Homo sapiens: one gene and its partner. The protein of the gene in region 1 interacts with the protein of each later gene in a pairwise test. Each region holds a gene or a part of one and is shown on either strand. Other genes may lie near its edges.

What was found. Proteins that work in one complex are often made in the same cells at the same time.
Region 2: the proteins of ZNF587 (region 1) and LRP2BP interact in binary tests that used the Homo sapiens proteins (3 or more experiments, as listed by UniProt).

Annotation. Positions count from the first base shown.
Region 1 is NC_000019.10:57,852,859-57,856,358, reverse strand, and holds part of ZNF587 (zinc finger protein 587), read right to left. Parts: intron 256-3,500; coding exon 126-255; intron 1-125. UniProt on the Homo sapiens protein: May be involved in transcriptional regulation.
Region 2 is NC_000004.12:185,375,425-185,378,924, reverse strand, and holds part of LRP2BP (LRP2-binding protein), read left to right. Parts: exon of another isoform or gene 1-717; 5' UTR 718-738; coding exon 739-844; exon of another isoform or gene 845-1,086; intron 1,087-1,262; exon of another isoform or gene 1,263-1,795; intron 1,796-1,906; coding exon 1,907-2,016; intron 2,017-3,198; coding exon 3,199-3,312; intron 3,313-3,500. UniProt on the Homo sapiens protein: May act as an adapter that regulates LRP2 function.

The sequences.
Region 1 (3,500 bases):
TACACAGAGAAGTGCAGAAGGAACCTGTGTCCAGGCTCCTTAGGTGAGAAAGACAGTCCTGTCAATGAAAAACAGGGGAACAGTAACACTAGCTCAGGTCACAAAGGTGAGCGTGAGCAACTTACCCAGCGAGGATATGAGAGCCAGGTTCTCTAGCATCACATCACGGTACAAGCACCTCTGAGCCTCACTAAGAAGACACCACTCCTCCTGGGAAAAGTTCACAGCCACATCTTCAAAGGTCACAGTGCCCTGCTATGATAGTGACAGATGAAACCACAAGCAGCCCCTCTGCTGAGGTACCACAACCCACCTCTCCCACACACCCACCCTTGCCCATCCTCCTCCCAAGGTCCCCAACACGGAGTTGAAACCACATCCACTGGTGCCTTTGTCTCTTCATGGGCCTGCTGGTCAAATGCCATCAGCAACAAGAAGTAGGTGGACAAATAGGTATCCATGCTGAGGTCCTGACATAAAAAGGTCCACTCCCTTCTGGGCTGGGTGCGGTGGCTCACGCCTGTAATCCCAGCACTTTGGGACACTGATTCGGGCAGATCTTGCAGTCAGGGGATAGAGACTATGCTGGTTAACATGGTGAAACCCTGTCTCTACTAAAAATACAAAAAATTAGCCGGGCATGGTGGTGGGCACCTGTAGTCCCAGCTACTCGGGAGGCTGAGGCCGGAGAATGGCGTGAACCCAGGAGGCGGGGTTTGTAGTGAGCCGAGATCACACCACTGCACTCCACCCTGGCCAACAGAGCGAGACACCATCTCAAAAAAAAAAAAAACAAAAAAAGCCCACACCCCCTTCTGAACAGCGATATCCAAGGTCACGTAAAGCCCAAGGCAGCTGCCTGAGTCCATCAGACAACCTCGCTCTCATTAAATATATATCATTCTTTATACTGTACAGACACATGCCCATGGCCACCCCCACCAGAGTTTCCCCAACCTTCAGCCCCTCTCTGGCATCCCCAGAAGTAAAAGTTTATTTTTGGGGGATTTTTTTGAGACATAGTCTAGCTCTGCCACCCAGGCTGGAGTGCAGGAACACAATCATGGCTCACTGCAGCCTCCGCCTCCCAGGTTCAAGTGATTCTTGTGCCTCAGCCTCCCAAGTAGCTGGGATTACAGCCATGTACCACTACACTCGGCTAATTTTTTTTTTTTGAGACGGAGTCTTGCTGTGTCCCCCAGGCTGGAGGGCAGTAGCATGATCTCAGCTCAGTGCAAGCTCTGCCTCCCAGGTTCAGGCCATTCTCCTGCCTCAGCCTCCCGAGTAGCTGGGACTACAGGTGCCCACCACCACAGCTGGCTAATTTTTTGTATTTTTTTTTTTTTAGTAGAGACGGGGTTTCACTGTGTTAGCCAGGATGGTCTCGATCTCCATACTTCCTGATCCACCCACCTCAGCATCCCAAAGTGCTGGGATTCCAGGCTTGAGCCACCATGCCTGGCCTGTATTTTTTTTTTTTAGTAGAGACGGGGTTTCACCATGTTGGCCAGGCTGGTCTTGAATTTCTGGTCTCAAGTGATCCACCAGCCTTGGCCTCTGAAAGTGAGGAGATTATAGGGGTGAGCCACCACACCCAGCGCCTACAAATAAAATTATTTCACAAGATGAAGAGGGTATAACGGCCCATGATTCCCTTGGGAATATGCAATGGTTTGTTTCCATAACTCTGCTGGTAGGGATGGAATTGAAACCCACCACAAAATATAACAACCTGGAACCCTGCCTTATCACCTTGATAAAACGGGCTGTTAGGCTAGGATACATTATTCAAGAGAGCAGAGTGGGAATGAGATTTGTACTCACACCTTTTAAGGTTGTCCCACTTTCACAAGATGTCAAAGTGACACATCATATTGGGCCTTCAATTCTGGCCTTATACCAAAATGTGGATAAGCATCCAGACTATGCTTGACAAATACAAATAGCATCCAATATTAACACAGAATTTCCATGGTTTACAATAGCAGTGGTAATCCCAAATCATCCTGTGAACGTCTCCTGGAATGACTCCATAGCCACACAGAACCACATATGGCTTCAGATAGCCATGGCCCTATTTCACTTTTGTGCTGCACCAGCTGAGACCTCAGCTGTAGCAACCCTCCTCTGTCCACCTAATGCCGTTTAAAGCCCAGCCCCTGGATTTGTGAACCAAACCACATCTACTATCACAGATGAGCATATTTTTCACTGCCCATATGCACCAGGCTGAATGAAACTCCCCAGGCACTCCCAAAGTCATCTCAAAATGTTTATGAGTCCAGACAGTGATAAATAGTTACAACTGGCCAGGCACAGTGGCTCACGCCTGCAATTCCAGCACTTTGAGGCCGAGGCAGGCAGATCACCCGGTCAGGAGTTCAAGACTAGCCTGGTCAGCATGGTGAAACCCTGTCTCTACCGAAAATACAAAAATTAGCCTGCTGTGGTGGCAGGTGCCTGTAATACTAGCTACTTGGGAGGCTGAGGCAGGAGAATTGCTTGAACCCAGGAGGTGGAGGTTGCAGTGAGCCGAGATGGCACCATTGCACTCCAGCTTGGGCAACAAGAGCGAAACTCCATCTGAAAAAAAAAAAAAAACAAAAAAGTTACAACTTTGGCACCAACTCAGGCCTAAGTGTCATCTTCCCTGAATTACTCCTGTGCTTCTGCATGCATCTATCTCTTCTCTATTATCTCTTTGGATGTCTATGTCCCCTTCCAAACTCTACTGTATTAAATGTCCTGTTATGATGGTCACTCACACCCTCTCAGGTGTTTAGGAAGCCCAATAACATCAATTGAGGACGTAAGTAAGAGATCCAGTCCTCAGCCTGTAATCACACCTTTCTGCCCCCTGAAAAGATTTACCACCATAATCTGAAGCATGTCCTCCTAAATGGACCCATAACTAATCATAGTTCACTCATTAGCTTTCATATATTGGATGTCTCCAGTATCAACACCCTCCCAGATACCCCATCCAGTATGTCTAGTTATCGATTTGATGCCACCACTTATTGGTCTCTGATTCTTCATATGGCCAAAACAACCCTCTGGATATCCACAGTGAATATTATGTCAATACCAACGTCATCTCAGCTGAAGCAGTGTGCATGGTTACAGCTGCTAAGATCAAAAACCTTGGGCTCATGCCCGATTCCTCTTTCATGCTCCTATCATCCACATTAGAAAATCTAGCTGTCTGCAAGGCATGGTGGCTCGTGCCTATAATCCCAGCACTTGGGGAGGCAGAGGCCAGCGAATCTCCTGAGGTCAGGAGTTTGAGACTAGCCTGGCCAACATGGTGAAACCCCGACTTTACTAAAAATAGAAAAATTAGCCGAGTGTGGTGGTACATGCCTGTAATCCCAGCTACTCAGGAGGCTGAGGCAGGAGAATCACTTGAGCCCAGGAGGTGAAGGTTGCAGTGGGCTGAGATTGTGCCACTAGACTCCAGGCTGGACAAGAGAGTGAAACTCCGTCTCAAAAAAAAAAAA
Region 2 (3,500 bases), on another chromosome or scaffold:
ATCAGGAACCTTTGCTGGAAGCTTGTTTCTGATTGGTGAAAGTAAGCCATAACAGTGGAATGCCAAGGAGTAAATACAAAAGTGTAGCAACAACTGAGTTTGCTGTCTCACTACCCTCAGCCTAGGCCAACCTGGACTCCTTCACCCCAAATGAGGTGACCGCTACATTTTATATGAAGACACTGATTTACCATTCAACTGTGATCCATCTTATAACATGGCAATCCAATACAGACAGGAAGATAAAACTCAACAACAGCTAAAATAAAGTGTATTCCCAGGTAAAATAGACAAGTGCTTTAATTTGAAATGGATTCGTCCGATGAGTGTCAGTTACAAGGGCAGAGAAGGTACCAGTGCAGAAGAGCTCTGACTGTGGGCAGTGTCACCAGGTCCCACTAAGTGGCAACACTTGTGCTGGGTGACTTGACCCATCTTGATGTATAAACCCATAGCCAGACAGGACGTGCAAACAGGTCTCATGGTGAATGCGATGCTGTGGAAAATGACATGGAGAATGGCTGTCTCTCAGCTAGGGAGGAGGGTCTTGGTGTCCTAGTAAAGAATGTTCACGTCCTGGAGTTGGTGGTTGGTGTTCTATCTAGGCGATGAGAGAAGGATGCTTTTCCTAATGAGCACCTGGTGGGAATAGAGTCTCTCTTTGCACTTCGCTGGAGGAAGAAATTTCTACCACTTATTTTTTCTTCTTGCTTATAGAATACACATTGCAGAAAAAGGATGAAGTTGACCAGTGAAAAGTTGCCCAAGAACCCCTTTTATGCCTCTGTATCTCAGTATGCTGCTAAAAACCAAAAATTTTTCCAGTGGAAAAAGGAAAAGACTGGTACAAATCCTGATATTTAAGCTTCCCTTGGAAAACACTTTAACAGTTCATTTTGCATGCTAGAGCAAACGAGACAAGAAATAATGTGTTTTATTGATTTCAAGGAAGTGGTTAATCATTAGTCCTTTTGAGTTTTCCCGCAAGAATCTGTGAAATTGCTCATTTATCTGGTAGCAAATCGTCAGTGAGGTCTCACAGATAGTTAGGTCTTGATTTTACTCTCAGGACTTAAGGACATGCTTCTAGAAAACAGAAAGCAGATGTCACGTTTGTTAAAGAGAACAATGCCAGGCTTGACTTGCAATTATTATTTAAATACCTTATCTTCCCTAAAGTCTTAAAAATGTTATATTAGGGATGGGTTGCTCATTTGGTTAGAGGAACTCTCATTAAGGCTCAAATTAAGAATTTAACTCACCTCTCCAGAGAGCTTTGCCCATTGAAGACAAACCAATGCATAGACTTATACCCAGCCCTGCACTGTTAGGGCTCTACTTGGCCATGAGCAGGGTTAGTGTGAAACCAATCAACAAGTATTGTTTGTTGTTGTTGTTGTTGTTTTGAGATGGAGTTTCGCTCTTGTTGCCCAGGCTTGAGTGCAGTGATGCAATCTTGGCTCACCGCAGCCTCCGCCTCCTGGGGTCAAGCTATTCTCCTGCCTGAGTCTCCCGAGTAGCTGGGATTATAGGCATGCACCACCACGCCCTGCTAATTTTGCATTTTTAGTAGAGACGGGGTTTCTCCATGTTGGTCAGGCTAGTCTTGAACTCCCAAACTCAGGTGATCCACCCGCCTCGGCCTCCCAGAGTGCTGAGATTTACAGGCGTGAGCCACCGCGCCCGGCCAGTATTGCTTTATTACACAAGGCACAGTGTTAGGGCCTGTGACCATGACGTTTTTTCAGGTAATATTTCTTCCTTGAGCTAAGGAGGCCAGTTGTAGGAATGAGCACTAGAAAGCAAGAATGTCAACAGTGTTAGATGGATTTTATATGATTCATTACTTCAAGAGAGAAAATTCATATTGTGTGGTTGATGGAATTCCTTACCTTTTTAAAATCAGATTACACCCATGCTAATTTGGTGGATAAGGCATTGCAGCTCTTGAAGGAAAGAATACTGAAAGGAGACACTCTGGCATATTTCCTACGAGGTCAACTATATTTTGAAGAGGTATCATTTTTTGTTTATTCGTTTTCATTTCCTGTAATTCTGTTGTTAGATCCTCAGACAAAAATTTCATGTAGAGTTTCTTACTGTGTTATACTAGGGAAATTCTGTCCAATTACATCGACTATGGCTGTGGCTTTAACAGTAGGATACAGTGCTGCCAGCTTGAGGAGCTACCTGACTTTTCTTCATAAAATCCATGTCATGAAAGCCATTTATGGGAGTCGTTTTAGTATAAAATCCATTTCACACTATAGATTAAAAATCAAATTTTTATATTTTTGCTCAAAATATTTAATAATACAAATTATATTATCAGGCCGGGTGCGGTGGCTCACGCCTGTAATCCCAGTACTTCGGGAGGCCGAGGCAGGTGGATCACCTGAGGTCAGGAGTTGTAGACCAGCCTGGCCAACATGGCTACACCCCATCTGTACTAAAAATACAAAAAAAAAAAAAAAAAAAAAAGTAGCTGGGCATGGTGGCACACATCTGTAATCCCAGCTACTTGGGAGGCTGAGGCAGAGAATCGCTTGAACCCAGGAGGCAGAGGTTGCAGTGAGCTGAGATCGTGCCACTGCACTCCAGCCTGGGCCACAGAGCGAGACTCCCTCTCAAAAAAAAGTATGTTTGTATTACCAGGTATCTTCATATTAATAATAATTGAAGCCTTGATTTTTATCTAGTACTTAGGGGAAGCTTTAGTTGTTCCTGGATAGCATAGGAGGAAATCGCCCTCTTTCTCCACATCTTGTTGGGGTGGCCTGGGAAGTAGACTGAGGAATGGCTATGCCAGCTGTCCCCTCAACTTCAGTAATGTAGTTTCGGTTTTTCATTGACTTCCCCGGGAAGACTTGAAAAGGGACTGACTGTCTTTCACCATTTGTTGACTATTTGGGCAGCTGTTCACCTATATCCCACTTACTCTCTCACTTTTCGATGGCACCTTCGTCTATCCTGGCAACAAATGTTTGCTGAGGGCTCATCGTGCGCCTGTTACTCTGAGGATGGCAGAGCACCATGGCTGAGAGCATGCTTCCTCAGCGTGGGGCATGGGTTCAGATATGGCTGCATTGCTTGTTAACTGTGTGTTTAACTTGGGCACAAACACTTGACCACTTGGTGCCTTTGGGATTACTTTAAGATCATAATAAAAATAATTAAATATCTTCTGGGTGCTTCTAGGGATGGTATGAAGAAGCATTAGAACAGTTTGAAGAAATCAAGGAGAAAGACCATCAAGCAACTTACCAGCTAGGAGTGATGTACTATGATGGGCTGGGGACCACTCTAGACGCTGTAAGTTAATGTCTTGGTCACAGTGGTTAAGATTTCATTGTCAGTGGATTATTGGACACAATTAAAATTATTTATATTTTAATACATATATATATACATATATATATATATATATATATATATATTTTTTTTTTTTTTTTTTTTTTTTTTTTTTTTTGAGACGGAGTCTCGCTCTGTCGCCCAGGCTG